3 separate regions of the Homo sapiens genome follow, and regions 1 and 2 are each linked to region 3. The links come from fine-mapping of genetic effects on gene expression. A gene starts in region 3. Each other region holds a variant in brackets. All regions are shown on one strand. Distances are between the middles of the regions. Region 1 overlaps WBP2NL (WBP2 N-terminal like). Region 2 overlaps XRCC6 (X-ray repair cross complementing 6). Region 3 holds the start of NDUFA6-DT (NDUFA6 divergent transcript).

Evidence for each region. PIP is the estimated chance that this variant, and not a neighbour inherited with it, causes the effect.
Region 1: its variant is fine-mapped to the expression of NDUFA6-DT in whole blood (TOPMed, PIP 0.97).
Region 2: its variant is fine-mapped to the expression of NDUFA6-DT in whole blood (INTERVAL, PIP 0.95).

What each region holds. Positions count from the first base shown.
Region 1 is chr22:42,020,614-42,026,835 of GRCh38, forward strand. WBP2NL (WBP2 N-terminal like) reads left to right here. Exons shown (of 6, transcript NM_152613.3): 5 at 1,636-1,743; 6 at 6,153-6,222. Among named protein-coding and RNA genes, the nearest start is that of WBP2NL, 25 kb to the left of the region's middle. The variant T/A (reference allele first, on the strand shown) is at 3,892.
Region 2 is chr22:41,629,050-41,634,049 of GRCh38, forward strand. All of the region lies in intron 3 of XRCC6 (X-ray repair cross complementing 6), which reads left to right. Among named protein-coding and RNA genes, the nearest start is that of XRCC6, 10 kb to the left of the region's middle. RefSeq lists an enhancer at 1,356-2,009. The variant T/C (reference allele first, on the strand shown) is at 2,710.
Region 3 is chr22:42,087,686-42,093,907 of GRCh38, forward strand. It overlaps NDUFA6-DT (NDUFA6 divergent transcript), which reads left to right and starts at 3,248. Exons shown (of 5, transcript NR_034118.2): 1 at 3,248-3,496; 2 at 3,612-3,915; 3 at 4,434-4,547. NDUFA6 (NADH:ubiquinone oxidoreductase subunit A6) reads right to left here and starts at 3,087. Exons shown (of 3, transcript NM_002490.6): 1 at 2,921-3,087. The coding sequence starts at 3,059.

The sequences.
Region 1 (6,222 bases), 67 kb before region 3:
GACCTCAGATATCTACTGAGCGTCTCTTCCTTGGGTCAGGGAGCCCTTAGTTATTCTTTCTTTGGTGTGGCTTTTTAGTTTTTCTTCTCTCTGGACTTGCCTTTGCTTTTCTCAGGTTTAGTCCCCATCTTACATGAGAGGGGAGTAGAGGTACTGTCAAGACTTATAGCACTGATCTAATGGATGTACCACAGAACTCTTTCAAACTGTGACTACAAATAATTTTTTTATCTCATATATGTGTGTGTGTGTGTGTATATATATATATATATATATATATATATATATATATATATTTTTTTTTTTTTTTTTTTTTTTTTTTTTGAGACAGTGTCTTGCTTTGTCACCCAGGCTGGAGTGCAATCATGCAATCTTGGCTCACTGCAACCTCCACCTCCCGGGTTCAAGTGATTCTCCTCCCTCAGCCTCCCAAGTAGCTGGGATTACAAGTGTCCACCACCAAGCCCAGCTAATTTTTGTATTTTTAGTAGAGACGGGGTTTCACCATGTTGGTCAGGCTGGTCTCGAACTCCTGACCTCAGGAGATCCACCTGCCTCAGCCTCCCAAAGTGCTGGGATCACAGGCGTGAGCCAGCACGCCTGGCCGGTCCTTGCGATCTTTAACCCATGGCTTCCATGGCCTCTTTGTACAGCCAGCAGAGAAGGAAATAAAGATCTCCCCTGGGAAATTTTTATGGGCCAGGCCTGGAAACTGTCTACATTACATCTGGTCACATGCCATAGGCAAAACTCAGTGTGGTAGGCTGATAATGGATCCCCAGATATATCCCCATCCCAATCCTCAGAATCTGTGACTGTTACGTTATTTGTAAAAAGGGTGTTTGTAGACGTAATTAATTTAAGGATCTTGAGATGACAAGATTACCCTAGATTATTTAGGTGGCCTCTAAATGCCATCACAAGTGTTCTTATAAGAGAGATGCAGAGGGGAGACAAGACAAAAGTGTTTTCTTCGGTACCACACTTCCTCACATTGGTCTTTAATGGATATATCTTACCAACTTGGTAGAATCCTCACTTAGAAGTTTTTTCTGAATATCTGTTATGATTAGGTGCTATGCTAGGCCTGGAATAAGCACAGGCAAATGAGATACAATCTCTGCCCTTAAGACACGTGCCATTCAGGACAAGGGTCATATTTCTTTTCTTTCTTTCTTTTTTTTTTTTTTTTTTGAGACAAGGTCTTACTCTGTCACCCAGGCTGGAGGCTCCAGTGCAGTGGCACAGATAAGGCTCACTGCAGCCTCAAATTTCCAGGCTCAAGCAATCCTCCTGCCTCAGCTTCCTGAGTAGCTAGGACCACAGGCATGCACCACCATGCCTGGCTAATTTTTAAAAAATTTTTTGTAGAGATAGGGTCTTGCCATGTTGCCCAGGCTGGTCTTGAACTCCTGGGGTCAAGCAATCCTCCCATCTTGGCCTCCTAAAATGTTGGGATTACAGGTGTGAGCCACTTCACCCAGCCCATGTTTCTTTTTTATCTTGTGTCTCAAGAGCATTGTTGGAAACACATGTAAGGTGGTGATTAAATACTCTGTTAATTGTTTAGTTGATATCTGCTATATATCTGACTTAATTAAAAGAGTTCCTATTTTGCCAAATTTGTCTTTCCAGCTGCCCGAGGATTTCCACTTAGAACCTTAAATGACTGGTTCAGCTCTATGGGAATTTATGTAATTACTGGGGAAGGGAATATGTGCACTCCACAGATGCCTTGTTCAGGTAAGGTATGGCAGAGAGGTTCTTCCTGGAAGGTGGAAAATTATGCCAGAGGCTCAAAGATCTATCCCTTGCAGGCTTGCTCCCTGCAGGAGCAGCAGCAGAGCTTTAGGGGCTTGGAAAATGGTCACATCTGTGACTTTGTTTCCAGACTGAAACCCAGTGGCAAAGTCAGCAAGTGACTGGGCTTTGGTTTCAGGCTTACTTTTAATGATATATACAAACCTGGAACATACTTGGCAATCCTGTTAGTGGGAAGGGTCACTTCCTGTTTATAGCCTGAGCAGAAAATATATGCTCTTGCCCACTTCCTTGTTTCCATTTCACATAGCATAGTCATCATACCTGTGCCACACCCTTCAACCTTACTGAGGACTCGAGCCCTGGGTCCTTTAACAGTTTGTGTTGTTAAAGTCCACTGCTACTGAATGGGGTTTCTGGAAAGTAATTCTCAAACATGGTCCACTGCCTACTGGTGGGCCACCAAGGGTCTCCTAATGCTGCCAACACACACAAAAATATGGGACTTTTCTTGAGTTCTCCTTGGAACTTGATATGCATGTCCATGGGCCTTTAGTTTTGTATGTAACTTAAAGGCTACTTATTTGTAACCTTAATAGGTACCTTGGTTTTTAAAGGTTATTACAGTCTAATATTCAGAATCTAAAGTAATTGTTGCTAGGGTTTAACATTTTTTCAGTTGGTGAAATTCACATAACATATAATTAACATTTTAATGTGTACAATTCAGTGGTATTTAGTGTAAAATTTAGCAGTATTTGACGTATTCACAATATTATACATCCACCAGCTGTCTCTAGTTTCAAAAAGTGGTGTTTTTTTTTTTTGGAGACAGAGTCTCACTTTGTCACCCAGGCTGTAGTGCAGTGGCACTATCATGGCCCCCTGCAGCCTCGACCCCCTGGGCTCAAGCGATCCTCTTACCTCAGTACCCCCCAACCAGAGTAGGCTAGGACCACAGGCGCAATCCACCATGCCCGGCTAATTTTTATGTGTTTTTGTAGAGACAGAAATCTCCCTATGTTGTCCAGGCTGGTTCTGAACTCCTGGCCTCCAGCCATCTGCCCGCCTTGCCCTCCCGAGGTGCTGGGATTATAGGCATGAGCCATCTCTGGCAGCCTTTTTTGTTTTTGTTTTTGTTTTTTTGAGAGGGAGTCTTGCTCTGTCGCCCAGGCTGGAGTGCAGTGGCGCGATGCAAGCTCCACCTCCCGGGTTCACGCCATTCTCCTGCCTCAGCCTCCTGAGTAGCTGGGACTACCGGCGCCCGCCACCACGCCCGGCTAATTTTTTTTTTGTATTTTTAGTAGAGACGGGATTTCACTGTGTTAGCCAGGATGGTCTCGATCTCCTGACCTTGTGATCCGCCCGCCTCAGCCTCCCAAAGTGCTGGGATTACAGGCTTGAGCCACCACACCCAGCCCCTGCCAGCCTTTTTTTTTAAAAAAATTTTGTAGATACAGGGTCTCACTGTGTTGCTTAGGCTGGTCTCACACTCCTGGGCTCAAGCAAGTCTATTGCCTTGGCTTCCCAAAGTGCTGGGATTACAGGTGTAAGCCACAGCATCTGGTCTGGTTTCAAAACTTTTTATCACCTAATAGCCACTAAGAAGTTATTCCCCATTGTCCCCTCTCTGATCCCCTGGTATCCTCTAATCTGCTTTCTGTCTTTATTGATTCACCTATTGTGAATATATCACATAAAAGAAATCATACAATATGTGACCTTTTGTGTTTGGCTTATCTCACTCAAGATAACGTTTTTGAGGTTCCTCCAAGTTGTAGCATGTAGCAATACTTCATTTCTTTTCCTGGCTGAATAATACTCCATTGTACATATATACCACAATTTGTGTATTCATTCCTCCATTGATGGACATTTGTCTTGTTTCCACCTTTTGGCTATTACGAATACTAGCTGCTATGAGCATTTGTATATAATTTTCTACGTAGACATATGTTTTCATTTCTCCTGGATATGCATCTTGGAGTGGAATTTCTGGGTCATATGTAAATTCTCTAACTTTTTGAGGAACCACCAACTATTTTCCAGTGCTGCACTATTTTACATTCCTGTGTAAATGTAAGTGTTCCTATTTCTACACATCCTCAGCAACACTTATCTTCCTTTTTT[T/A]AAAAAAAAAAATCTATATTAAAGCCATTCTAGTGGGTATGAAGTGGTATCTCATTGTGGTTTTAATTTGCATTTCCTTAATGACTAATGATGTTGAACATCTTTTAATGTGCTTTTTATATACCTTAATTGGAGAACTGTCCAAGTCTTTTGCCTATTTTTTTTATTATTTAAATCGGATTGCTTGTCTTTTTGTTGTTGAGTTGTAAGCATTCTTTATATAGTCTGGATATGAAATCCTTGTCAGATATATTATTTGTAAATATTTTTAGGTTTTCTTTCACATTCTTGATAATGACTTTTTTTTTTTTTTTTTGAGACAAAGTCTCCCTCTGTCACCCAGGCTGGAGTGCAGTGGCGCCATCTTGGCTCACTGCAATCTCTGCCTCCCGGGTTTAAGTGATTCTTGTGCCTCAGCCTCCTGAATAGCTGGGACTGCGGGTGTGTGCCACCCTGCACAGCTAATCTTTGTATTTTTAGTAGAGATGTAGTTTCACCATGTTGTTCAGACTCATCTAGAACTCCTGAGCTCAAATGATCTGCCTGCCTCGGCCAGTGGGTTACAGGTGTGAACAACTGTGCCCAGGCAAAAATGGCTTTTAATGCACAAAGGTTTTTAATTTTTATCAGATTTCTCTTTTTTCCTCTTGTTGCTCATGCTTTTGATGTAAAATGTGAGAATTCGTTGCCAAATCCAATGTCATGAAGATTTATCCCTGTTTTCTTCTAAGCATTTTATAGTTTTAGCTCTTATATCAAGCTTGTCCAACCCATGGCCCAGGATGGCTTTGAATGCAGCCCAACACAAATTCATAAACTTTCTTCAAATGTTATGAGATTTTTAAAAATAGCTCATCAGCTATCGTTAGTGTTAGTATATTTTATATGTGGCCCAAGACAATTCTTCACCAATGTGGCCCAGGGAAGCCAAAAGATTGGCCACCTCTGTTTTATATTAAGGCCATTGATTCACTACAAGTTAATTTTTATCTGTAGAGTGAAGTGAGGGAAGAACCTCATTCTTTTACGTGCAGATATCCAGTTGTCCCAGAATCATTTTTTGAAGAGACTGTTTTTTTCCCATTGAATGGTCTTGGCATTCTGTCAAAAATCAACTGTTCATAGATGCTTGGGTTTATTTCTGGACTCTTAATTCATTCCATTGGTCTCTAAGTCTGTCCTTGTGCCAGTAAAACACTGTCTTGATTACAGTAGTTTTGTAATAAATTTTGGATTAAAGCAAAATAACTTTACAGCTGTCCATTCACTTTATCCAGTTAAATCACTTTGGGGAATGTAACCCAAGGTAATAAGTAAAACTCATGTTTATTGTAAGGTTAATTGGAAAGTCAGAAACAACAAAAAGAGTCATCTATCCATATGATGAAATATTATCCAGCTTTGAATTTATGAAGTAAATTAACAATATGAAGACATTTCTTATAATATTAAGTAAAAGAGCCAGATTTAAAAAATCATATGGCTGGCCGGGCGCAGTGGCTCACGCCTGTAATCCCAGCACTTTGGGAGGCCGAGGCGGGTGGATCATGAGGTCAGGAGATCGAGACCATCCTGGCTAACATGGTGAAACCCTGTCTCTACTAAAAATACAAAAAAATTAGCTGGGCATGGTGGCGGGTGCTTGTAGTCCCAGCTACTCGGGAGGCTGAGGTGGGAGAATGGCATGAACCCAGGAGGCAGAGCTTGCAGTGAGCCAAGATCGCGCCACTGCACTCCAGCCTGGGCAACAGAGCGAGACCCCCTCTCAAAATAATAATAATAATAATAATAATAATAATAATAATAATAATAATATGGCTGATATGATCATGATTATATAAAGAATATTCACAGAGATTCTACAAAGAAATACACCAAAATAGTAAGTGTTCAATGGTAGAATTATAGATGGCTTTTTTCCATTCCTCTTTTCTCTATTTTCCAAACGCATATTCCTCATTAAGCATGTATTACTTTTTTTCATAATCAAACTTTATTAAGTAAAACACATATCTGTGCAAGAGTATAAGTAACGCACCGATCTATTGATAGGGTTGTTTTCATGTTGATTTGAATCCCTGCACAACAGGAAGTGATATGCCTTCAATTGGTGATAGCTAGAGGAAATAGCTTTAGCATTATTCTGCCTGACTTCTCTTCTTGCGTCAGTTTGCTTCAGCATTATTTTTTAAGTTCTTCCTTCTCACATATTCCTTGACTTAAAGGTAACTGAATTTTTTTCCTTCCATTATAATTCCCAGTTATTGTCTATGGAGCCCCACCTGCAGGATATGGAGCCCCACCTCCCGGATACGGAGCCCCACCTGCAGG
Region 2 (5,000 bases), 460 kb before region 3:
GTCATTAGAGAAAGGCAAATGAAAACCATAATGAGCTACCACTCACACCCACTATATAAACAAACTAAAATTTAAAAAACACCAGCAGAAAATAAGTGTTGGCAAGGCTGTGGAGAAATTGGCGTGATTGACTGTACCTGACCTGTTCTTGTTTCTTTAAATTGAGGTTGTGTTTCATGTAACATAAAATTAACTATTTGAAAGTATACAATTCAGTGACACTTAACACATTCACAATGTTATGCAGCCACCACCTCTATCTTATTCCAAAACATTTTGAATGGCTAAACAGTGGCATATAGATATACATTCCATGAAAAGGAATGAATAATTGATACATACTACAAAGTAGATGAATCTTGAAAGTATTATGCTAAGTGAAAGAAGCCAGATACAAAAAGTCAAATATTGTATGATTTCATTTACATGAAATATCCAGAATAGGTAAGTTCTTAACGCAGAGGGGTGGTTGGTTACCTGAGGCACAGGGAAGAGAGGAACAGGGAGCAACTGCTCAATGGGTATGGGGTTTGCTTTTGGGGTGATGAAAATTTTTTGGAACTAGAGTTGGTAGTTGCACAACATTGTGAATGTTTGTGTGTGTATTTATTTATTTATTTATTTTTATTATTATTTTTGAGACGGAGTCTCGCTCTGTCACCCGGGCTGTAGTGCAGTGGCGTGATCTTGGCTCACTGCAAGCTCCGCCTCCCGGGTTCATGCCATTCTCCTACCTTAGCCTCCAGAGTAGCTGGGACTACAGGCACCTGCCACCATGCCTGGCTAATTTTTTGTGTTTTTAGTAGAGACGGGGTTTCACCGTGTTAGCCAGGATGGTCTCAATCTCCTGAAGTGATCCGCCTGCCTCGGCCTCCCAAAGTGCTGGGATTACAGGTGTGAGCCACTGCGCCCAGCCTTGTGTGTGCATTTATGCTTTTTTTTTTTTTTTTTTTGAGTTGGAGTCTCGCTCTGTCACCAGGCTGGAGTGCAGTGGCACAATCTTGGCTCACTACAACCTCTGACTCCCTGGTTCAAGCGATTCTCCTGCCTCAGCCTCCCGAGTAGGTGAGATTACAGGCACGTGTCACCATGCCCAGCTAATTTTTGTATTTTTAGTAGAGATGGGGTTTCACCATATTGGCCAGGATGGTCTTGGACCCCTGACCTCGTGATCTGCTCGCCTCGGCCTTCCAAAGTGCTGGGATTGCAGGCGTGAGCCATGGCACCCGGCCTTGCTTTTTTTTTTTGAGATGGTGTCTCACTATTGCTCAGGCTGGTTTGGAACTCCTGGGCTCAAGCAATCCACCCACCTCAGCCTCCTGTGTGGCTGGGGTTAAGGCATGTGCCACTATGCCTGGCACATTGTGAATGTATTAAATACCTCTTAATTGTTCACTTAGAAAATCTAAATTTCAGCTTAATTAAAAAGATTAGTGTTTCTTTTTTTTTTTTTTTAATTTATTTTTTTTATTGATCATTCTTGGGTGTTTCTCACAGAGGGGGATTTGGCAGGGTCATAGGACAATAGTGGAGGGAAGGTCAGCAGATAAACAAGTGAACAAAGGTCTCTGGTTTTCCTAGGCAGAGGACCCTGAGGCCTTCCGCAGTGTTTGTGTCCCTGGGTACTTGAGATTAGGGAGTGGTGATGACTCTTAACGAGCATGCTGCCTTCAATCCATTTAACCCTGAGTGGACACAGCACATGTTTCAGAGAGCACAGGGTTGTGGGGTAAGGTCACAGATCAACAGGATCCCAAGGCAGAAGAATTTTTCTTAGTACAGAACAAAATGAAAAGTCTCCCATGTCTACTTTTTTCCACACAGACACGGCAACCATCCGATTTCTCAATCTTTTCCCCACCTTTCCCCGCTTTCTATTCCACAAAACCACCATTGTCATCATGGCCCGTTCTCAATGAGCTGTTGGGCACACCTCCCAGACGGGGTGGTGGCTGGGCAGAGGGGCTCCTCACTTCCCAGTAGGGGCGGCCGGGCAGAGGCGCCCCTCACCTCCCGGACAGGGCTGCTGGCCGGGTGGGGGGATGACCCCCCCACCTCCCTCCTGGACGGGGCGGCTGGCAGGGCGGGGGGCTGACCCCCCCACCTCCCTCCCGGACGGGGCGGCTGGCCAGGCAGAGGGGCTCCTCACTTCCCAGTAGGGGCGGCTGGGCAGAGGCGCCCCTCACCTCCCGGATGGGGCGGCTGGCCTGGCTGGGGCTGACCCCCCACCTCCCTCCCGGACGGGTCGGCTGCTGGGCGGAGAGGCTCCTCACTTCCCAGATGGGGTGGCTGCCGGGCGGAGGGGCTCCTCACTTCTCAGACGGGGCGGCTCCCGGACAGAGGGGCTCCTCACTTCTCCGACGGGGCGGTTGCCGGGTGGAGGGTCTCCTCCCTTCTCAGATGGGGCGGCTGGGCAGAGACGCTCCTCACCTCCCAGACGGGGTCACGGCTGGGCAGAGGCGCTCCTCACATCCCAGACGGGGCGGCGGGGCAAAGGCGCTCCCCACATCTCAGACGATGGGCGGCCGGGCAGAGACGCTCCTCACTTCCTAGATGGGATGGCGGCTGGGCAGAGACGCTCCTCACTTTCCAGACTGGGCAGCCAGGCAGAGGGGCTCCTCACATCCCAGACGATGGGCGGCCAGGCAGAGACACTCCTCACTTCCCAGACGGGGTGGCGGCCGGGCAGAGGCTGCACTCTGGGCACTT[T/C]GGGAGGCCAAGGCAGGCGGCTGGGAGGTGGAGGTTGTAGCAAGCCGAGATCACACCACTGTACTCCAGCCTGGGCACCATTGAGCACTGAGTGAACCAGACACCGTCTGCAATCCCGGCACCTCCGGAGGCCGAGGCTGGCGGATCACTCGCGGTTAGGAGCTGGAGACCAGCCTGGCCAACACAGCGAAACCCCGTCTCCACCAAAAAAATACGAAAACCAGTCAGGCGTGGCGGCACGCGCCTGCAATCGCAGGTGCTCGGCAGGCTGAGGCAGGAGAATCAGGCAGGGAGGTTGCAGTGAGCCGAGATGGCAGCAGTACAGTCCAGCTTCGGCTCGGCATCAGAGGGAGACCGTGGAAAGAGAGGGAGAGGGAGACCGTGGGGAGAGGGAGACCGTGGGGAGAGGGATAGGGAGAGGGAGAGGGAGAGGGATTACTGTTTCTTTTGTGTACTTCGTAGAGAAGAATTTTCACAGATTTATTATATATCTCATGTCTCATAATTTTAGAATTTGGAACTGAACAGAAACTTTTCATGTTCTAATTTGTGTACAAATAGTTCTTGGTAGGCAGGGTGTGGTGGCTCACGCCTGTAATCCCAGCACTTTGGGAGGCTGAGGTGAGTGAATCACTTGAGGTCAGGAGTTCGAGACCAGCCTGGCCAACATGGTGAAATTCTGTCTCTACTCAAAATACAAAAATTAGCCGGGCATGGTAGTGCAGGCCTGTAGTTGCAGCTATTCAGGAGGCTGAGGCAGGAGAATTGCTTGAACTGGGGAGGTGGACGTTGCAGTGAGCCAGGATCACGCCACTGCACTCCATCCTGGGTGACAGAGAGAGACTCCATCTCAAGAAAACAAGAAATAGTTCTTGTAGTTGGCACACCAGAATATCTTGCACCAAAAAAAAAGAATAAGCTGGGTGTGGTGGTGTGCACTTGTAGTCCCAGCTACTCAGGAGGCCGGGGTGAGAGGATTGCTTGAGCCCAGGAGTTTGAGGCTGCACTGAGCTATGATTGTGCCAGTGAACTCTAGCCTGGGCAACAGAGTAAGACCCTGTCTCTTGGAAAAAAAAAAAAAAAGAAAAGGCTGGGCGCGGTGGCTCATGCCTGTAATCCCAGCACTTTGGGAGGCCGAGGTGGGCGGATCACGAGGTCAAGAGATCAAAACCATCCTGGCCAAAATGGTGAAACCTCGTCTCTACTAAAAATACAAAAATTAGCTGGGTGTGGTGGCGTGCGCCTGTAGTCTCAGCTACTCCAGAGGCTGAGGCAGGAGAATCGCTTGCACCTGGGAGGCAGAGGTTGCAGTGAGCCGAGATGGCACTATTGCAGTCCAGCCTGGGCAATAGAGCCAGACTCTGTCTCAAAAAAAAAAAGTGTATGTAAAATAAAATAATAGAACTATGAATAAAAACAATCGTTAATTTAAAGTGGTTCTCAAACAGAATTACTTGCAGGACATTAAAACACAGACTACAGAACCTTGCCCCACAATCAAAATTTCTGATTCTCTATGTCTAGAATGGGGACCAAGAATTTGCATTTCTAGTAAATTGTCAGGTGATGCTGATGTTACTGATTTGGAGACCATTACTTTGAAGAGCAGTGCTTTAACCTTTTTTAGACCGTGGACCTATTTTTTTTTTTTTTTGAGACGGAGTCTCGCTTTGCTGCCCTGGCTCTTGGCTCACTGCAAGCTCTGCCTCCTGGGTTCACACCATTCTCCTGCCTCAGCCTCCTGAGTAGCTGGGACTACAGGCACCCACCACCACACCCGGCTAATTTTTTGTTCTTGTTTTTTAGTAGAGATGGGGTTTCACCATGTTAGCCAGGATGGTCTCCATCTCCTGACCTCGTGATCTGCCCACTTCGGCCTCCCAAAGTGCTGGGATTACAGGCATGAGCCACCGCACCTGGCCAACCGTGGACCTCTTTGAGGATATGATGACAGCTACATACCTTCCCCTCAAAAAAGATAGTACTCACAATTCTACCTGTAATTTCAGAGAGTTAATGGAACCCTTGATGCCTAAAGACCTCAGAAGAAAATGTAGTGTTAGGTAGGAAGGAAATGAGACATTCATAGATGAGCACAATTTGATAACCGATAATAAGTATTCAGTAGTTGATAAGCAATAGAAAACATTTTCTAAAATTCTGTTTTAGTTTTTGTTTTTAATTTTTAGAACCTAAAAGGAGCCCTTACCAGATTCTTTTAAAAGTTTGTAGACTCCTCAGAGTAGATTAAAATATTTATGGAAATGACTACTTGCCATGTGGATTGTTGT
Region 3 (6,222 bases):
CAGCTACTCGGGAGGCTGAGGCAGGAGAATGGTGTGAACCCGGGAGGTGGACCTTGCAGTGAGCCGAGGTCGCACCACTGCACTCCAGCCTGGGTGACAGAGCGAGACTCCGTCTCAAAAAAAATAATAATTATTTTATTAGCTGGGCGCGGTGGCTCACGCCTGTAATCCCAGCACTTTGGGAGGCCAAGGCAGGTGGATCACCTGAGGTCAGGAGTTCAAGACCAGCCTGGCCAACATGGTGAAACCCCGTCTCCACTAAAAATACAAACATGAGCCGGGCATGGTGGTGGGTGCCTGTAATCCCAGCTACTCGGGAGACTGAGGCAGGAGAATCACTTGAACCCGGGAGGTGGAGGGTGCAGTGAGCTGAGATGGGCCACTGCATTCCAGCCTGGGTGACAGAGTGAGACTGTGTCTCAAAAAAAAAAAAAAAAAAAGGCTGGGCGCGGTGGCTCACGCCTGTAATCCCAGCACTTTGGGAGGCCGAGGCGGGTGGATCATGAGGTCAGGAGATCGAGACCATCCTGGCTAACAAGGTGAAACCCCGTCTCTACTAAAAATACAAAAAATTAGCCGGGCGCGGTGGCGGGCGCCTGTAGTCCCAGCTACTCAGGAGGCTGAGGCAGGAGAATGGCGTGAACCCGGGAAGCGGAGCTTGCAGTGAGCCGAGATTGCGCCACTGCAGTCCGCAGTCCGGCCTGGGCGACAGAGCGAGACTCCGTCTCAAAAAAAATAATTATTATTTTATTAGCTGGGCGCGGTGGCTCACGCCTGTAATCCCAGCACTTTGGGAGGCCAAGGCAGGTGGATCACCTGAGGTCAGGAGTTCAAGACAGCCTGGCCAACATGGTGAAACCCCGTTTCTACTAAAAATACAAAAGTTAGCCAGGTGTGGTGGCACGCAACTATAATCCCAGCTACTCGGGAGGCTGAGGCATGGGGAAATCACTTGAACCCGGGAGGTGGAGGTTGCAGTGAGCCAAGATCGCGCCATTGCCCTCCAGCCTGGGAGACAAGAGCGAGACTCTGTCTCAAAAAAAAAAAAAAAAAAAAAAGTGAGTTATCATTACTGTTTTTTTCATTAAATACTTAAAATTTTACTTTTGTTTTTTATTAATGCTCAGGCTGTTCTAAGTTCTCAACACTATTACTTATTCCCCTTCCTTGATTTGATTCCTCAGCTGGAGTCCTGATGATGGATACCATAAAACCCGTGTGGCACAGGTTTGAGTAACTGGCCAGCTACAGATCACTGATCTTCCCCATAGGGATGCATACTCCTTGACCCCTTCTTTTCTCTCCTCTTCCCTTGCTTTCTAGGCTCCTGTAGCCCTCTGCCTTCTTTTCCTCCTCTCAAGACCCTTCTGACTTTGGGACTTTCTTCCCAAAACAGAATTTGAGGGAAGGTCTTGGGAGGGGTCGGTTTAGAAAGAGCTGGATCCTCAGAGTCAGGATACCTGGGTTCTGTCTTCTACTTGGCCACTGATTTACCCTTCACAAGCCACCCTTTTTGAATGTGGTCCTCCTTCCCCCAGCACCTTCCTCCTGCAACCAGAGAGGGTTCTGGGTACTCCTAGAAGTATTCTGCCAGGCAAACATTATGTTTTCAAACTGCTGAATTTGAATGCACCACCCCGAAACACACACACACACACACACACACACACTGCTACAGTCACTCCCCACACACATCTTTTATCTGCCTGCCCCTGAAGGCATCTGAATTTGCAGTCCCTGAACCAGCAGATCACTCAAGTTTCTCCTTCTCTAGTATCGCGTGGGTTTAAGTTCTGGTCAGTAGCAATTTTTCCAAAAGTCAGCTTGAAGACAGGGACTCTGTGGAGCAGACACAGTTCTCATATGTCAAAGAACCGGGTTCTGCTTGGAAGCTGCTGCTAAGGAAAGCCCTATAAATAACAAAAATAACAACAAAAACAACGGCAGCAGCTAATATTTAATGAGTTAAATATGCATCAAGTCCTGTTCTAAGCACTCTAGATATTTTAACTTAATACAGTAACCTTCTGAAGAAGGAATTATTATTCCCATTTTAAAGATGAAGAAACTGAGGAATAGATGAAATAACTGGCCCAAGGTCACACAGCTAGTTGAGGGCAGCGCCTGAAGAAAAGTCCGTGCTCCTAACCACCACATTCTACCGCCTTTTCACACACACAAGCAGGGACTCGACAGCCCTGAGGAGTGGCACCGTGCTCCAGCTCACTCAAAAACACCTCTTTCTCGCACTTTGGGAGGCCGAGACGGGCGGATCACGAGGTCAGGAGATCGAGACCATTCTGGCTAACACGGTGAAATCCCGTCTCTACTAAAAATACAAAAAAAAATGGCCGGCGTGGTGGCGGGCGCCTGTAATCCCAGCTATTCGGGAGGCTGAGGCTGAGGCAGGAGAATGACGTGAATCCGGGAGGCGGAGCTTGCAGTGAGCCGAGATCGCACCACTGCACTCCAGCCTGAGCGACACAGCGAGACTCTGTCACAAACAAAAAAATCCAACGGGCATCTATAATTACACTCTGCAACTCTAGACTTTGGGTTCTGGGTACAACAGTGGCTCGGCCTGGGCCCTGGGCACATCACTTCACCTCTCGGTGCCTCCGCTGCCTCACCCACAAAGTGAGTGTGTCACTGACAGTCATCGTCCTCCCGCCAATTGCGAAGGACAAAAGAGACCAAAGCTCCGATAGCACGTACGAATGCTAGGCACGGCCGGTCTGACCACCGCGCCGCCGCCAGGTCCGGCCCATGGTAGGCTCGGGTGACCCTCTTCCCCTGAAGCACCCGCAGTCGCCTCTGCCCAAGTTGGTGACCTCAGCTGGGCCCATGAGAAACCCCGGCCGGGCCGGCTACGACCTTGAGCGGCGGCCTCCGGGTCCCCACGTAAGCCGCTACCTCTCACCAGTGTTCGGCACCTCCCGATACCAGGCGCGGTAGAGCTCGCGCACCCTCCGCTTGGCCTCGTTCATGTCCCGACTGAAAATGGGCTTCACGAAGGTGCTGGCGGTAGAAGTAGCTTGGCGGACGCCGCTCCCCGCCATCTTGCCAAAGCATCCACTCCACAACCCCACCCCTTTGCAAGCAGCGCGTGCGGACCGCGGGCGAATGTCTTTTCCCATTGGCTAAGGAGGAACGCCCCGCCTGTATGCTGGGTGGGCGGGAGGATGACTCTGAGGCTCTCGGATTGGCTGGGAAGCCTCTCTCTGGCTGAGCGAACGGTGGGTGCTGCGCATGCTCATCTACAGAAACGCCGCTTGGCCTTTGGACTACACCATCTGTCGCTCGCTCTAACGAGCCGGCGTTGCCGCCAGGGGACGCTCGGGCCGCAGGAGGTCGCTGGGTCGTGAGCTGGCGCCGGGGACGCCGAGCGACTGCGGGGTTTCCCTCAGCGTCCTGCTATCCGGCTGCCCGCCGCGCTCCTTGGTAGTGTCCGTGGGCGCGCAGGCCTTGAAGAACCTCCTCGTGGCGGGACCCCGAGGTAACTGCTGAGGCAGATAATGGCGCCTGGGCTGCGGTGGGGCTTGTCCTGCCGCCTGGCGGCTTTCTGCAGGGCCAGGATATACTTACTTTTCTGTAAACCAACTCTTCCTTAGCGCAGGAGAGGTGTCAAAGAGCTGGCGCGTCTCCAGAGCCCCGGGAGGAAGGCTGTAACGGCAGCCCCATCGTAGACAGGGACATTCGCATCCCGAGCCCTGGATCTCTGAAAACCAGCCCAGAATTTGGAAGCTGGAAGGAACTTTAGATCGTCCATTCTGAGTGTCTCTCTTCGCTGGCGTTTTCCCACTGAGGTTATGTAAACATGAAGAGGAGCCTACAAGTGTCAAGGAAAAAACGACAGCTAACCACAGGGCAGGCCATGGGCAAGATATCTCAGTGTTCTCCGCTCTCATAGGTCAGGTAGGTACCTCAGCATCCCCATTTTACAGGTGAGGAAACTGAGATGGCCCAGAGTCTAGGTCACCTGACAGATCGCCCCCACCTGCCTGACTGCTGCCTAAGAGGCTCCGTCTTTTTCTGAAGGTGTAGTTGACAGGAGCCTGTGAGTATTGGGGAAGGGCCAGGGGCCGGGGCTGAGCATCTACTCCAAACTTTCCCATTTCGAAGGGTTAAAAAACCAGATATACTTTTTTTCTTCCTTATTATCTTCTAAAATGTATATATATATTCAAGTGAGCTATACAAAAGAAAGCACGTAACATATATAAATTATAAAGCATAATAATAAAATGGAAGCTTTTGAACCTCAGTACTGACTTAAGAAGTTGTAACACAGTTAAGGTTTGTATAAAGTGTCCTTAGATGTCCTTAGTAGCCACTGTTCTCTAGTTCTCTAGGTACATTAACTTGGCTAGGCTTCACAACACACCAGTGAGATTGTGTTGATATACCCTTTTTTTTTTTTTTTTTTGAGACAGAGTGAGACTCACCTAGGCTGGACTGCAATGGTGCAATCTCGGCTCACTGCAACCTCCGCCTCTCATGTTCAAGCCATTCTCCTGCCTCAGCTTTCCGAATCGCTGGGATTACAGGTGCGCACCACCATGCATGGCTAATGCTTGTATTTTAGTAGAGACGGGGTTTTGCTATGTTGGCCAGGCTGGTCTCAAACTCCTGACTTCAGGTGATCCACCCACCTCAGCCTCCCAAAGTGCTGGGATTACAGGTGTGAGCCACTGCCCCCGGCTGATATACTCATTTTATAGATGAGAAAACTGAGGCACAAAGAGACTAAGTTACTTTACAGCATTGGGGTTGAAGCCCAGGCAGCTGGTGCCAGAGTCAGTTTTCTGACTCTCGCAGCACCTATACCATGATATCTACCTGTATGATTCTAACCTTGTGTATACCCCTGCCTCCTTCAGAAGTACCCACTATCATGATAAATTCATTGTGTTCAACATTCAAAAAAAAAATGGGGCGCAGTGGCTCACTCCTGTAATCCCAACACTTTGGGAGGCCAAGGCAGGTGTATCACCTGATGTCAGGAGTTCGAGACCAGCCTGGCCAACATGGTGAAACCCCCGTCTCTACTAAAAATACAAAAATTAGCCGGCATGGTGGTGGGCACCTGTAATCTCAGCTACTCGGGAGGCTGAGGCAGGAGGATCGCTTGAGCCCGCGAGGTGGAGGTTGCGGTGAGCCAAGATTGCGCCGCTGGACTCCAGTCTGGGCGACAGAGTGAGACCCTGTCTCAAAAGGAAAAGAAAAAAAAGACCTCTAAACAACCCACAAACTGGGAGAAAATTTTTGCAAATCACATGTTCCATAAGGGACTTGTATCTAGGATACATAAAATTCTTACAACTCAGTAATGAAAAGACAAATAGCCAAGTTTAGAAATGGGCAAGGGAGACAACACCAAATGCTGGTGAGGATGTGAAGCAACAGGAACTCTCCTTACTGGTAGGAACGCAAAATGGTACAGCAGCTTTGGAAGACAGTTTGGCTTTCTGACAAAACTAAACATACTCCCATCAGAAGATCCAGCCATTGCATTCCTTAGTGTTTACCCAAATGAGCTGAAAACTTATGTCCACACAGAAACCTGCACATGGATGTTTACAGCAGCTTTTGTTTTTGTTTTTGTTTTTGAGATGGAGTCTCGCTCTGTCACCCAGGGTGGAGTGCAGTGGCGCGATCTCGGCTCACTGGAAGCTCTGCCTCCTGGGTTCACGCCATTCTCCTGCCTCAGCCTCCAAGTAGCTGGGACTACAGGCGCCTGCCACGAAGCCCAGCTAATTTTTTGTATTTTAAGTAGAGACGGGGTTTCACCATGTTAGCCAGGATGGTCTCGATCTCCTGACCTCGTGATCTGCCCGCCTTGGCCTCCCAAAGTTCTGGGACTACAGGCGTGAGCCACCGCTCCCGGCCAGCAGCAGCTTTATTTGTAATTGCCAAAACTTGAAAGCAACCAAGATGTCCTTTAGCAGGTAAATGGATAAATAAACCTTGGTATATCCAGACAATGGACTATATTCAGCACTAGAAAGAAATGAGCTATTAAGCCATGAAAAGGCATGGAGAAACCTTAAATGCATATTAGTAAGTGAAAGAAGACAATCTGAAAGAGCTACATACTGTATGATTCCAACTATATTACATCCTGGAAAAGGCAAAACTATGGAGACAATAAAAAAGATGGCAGGGGCTGGGAGTGGGGAGAAATGCACAGAGGTGGTGCACAGAGAATATTTAGGGTAGTGA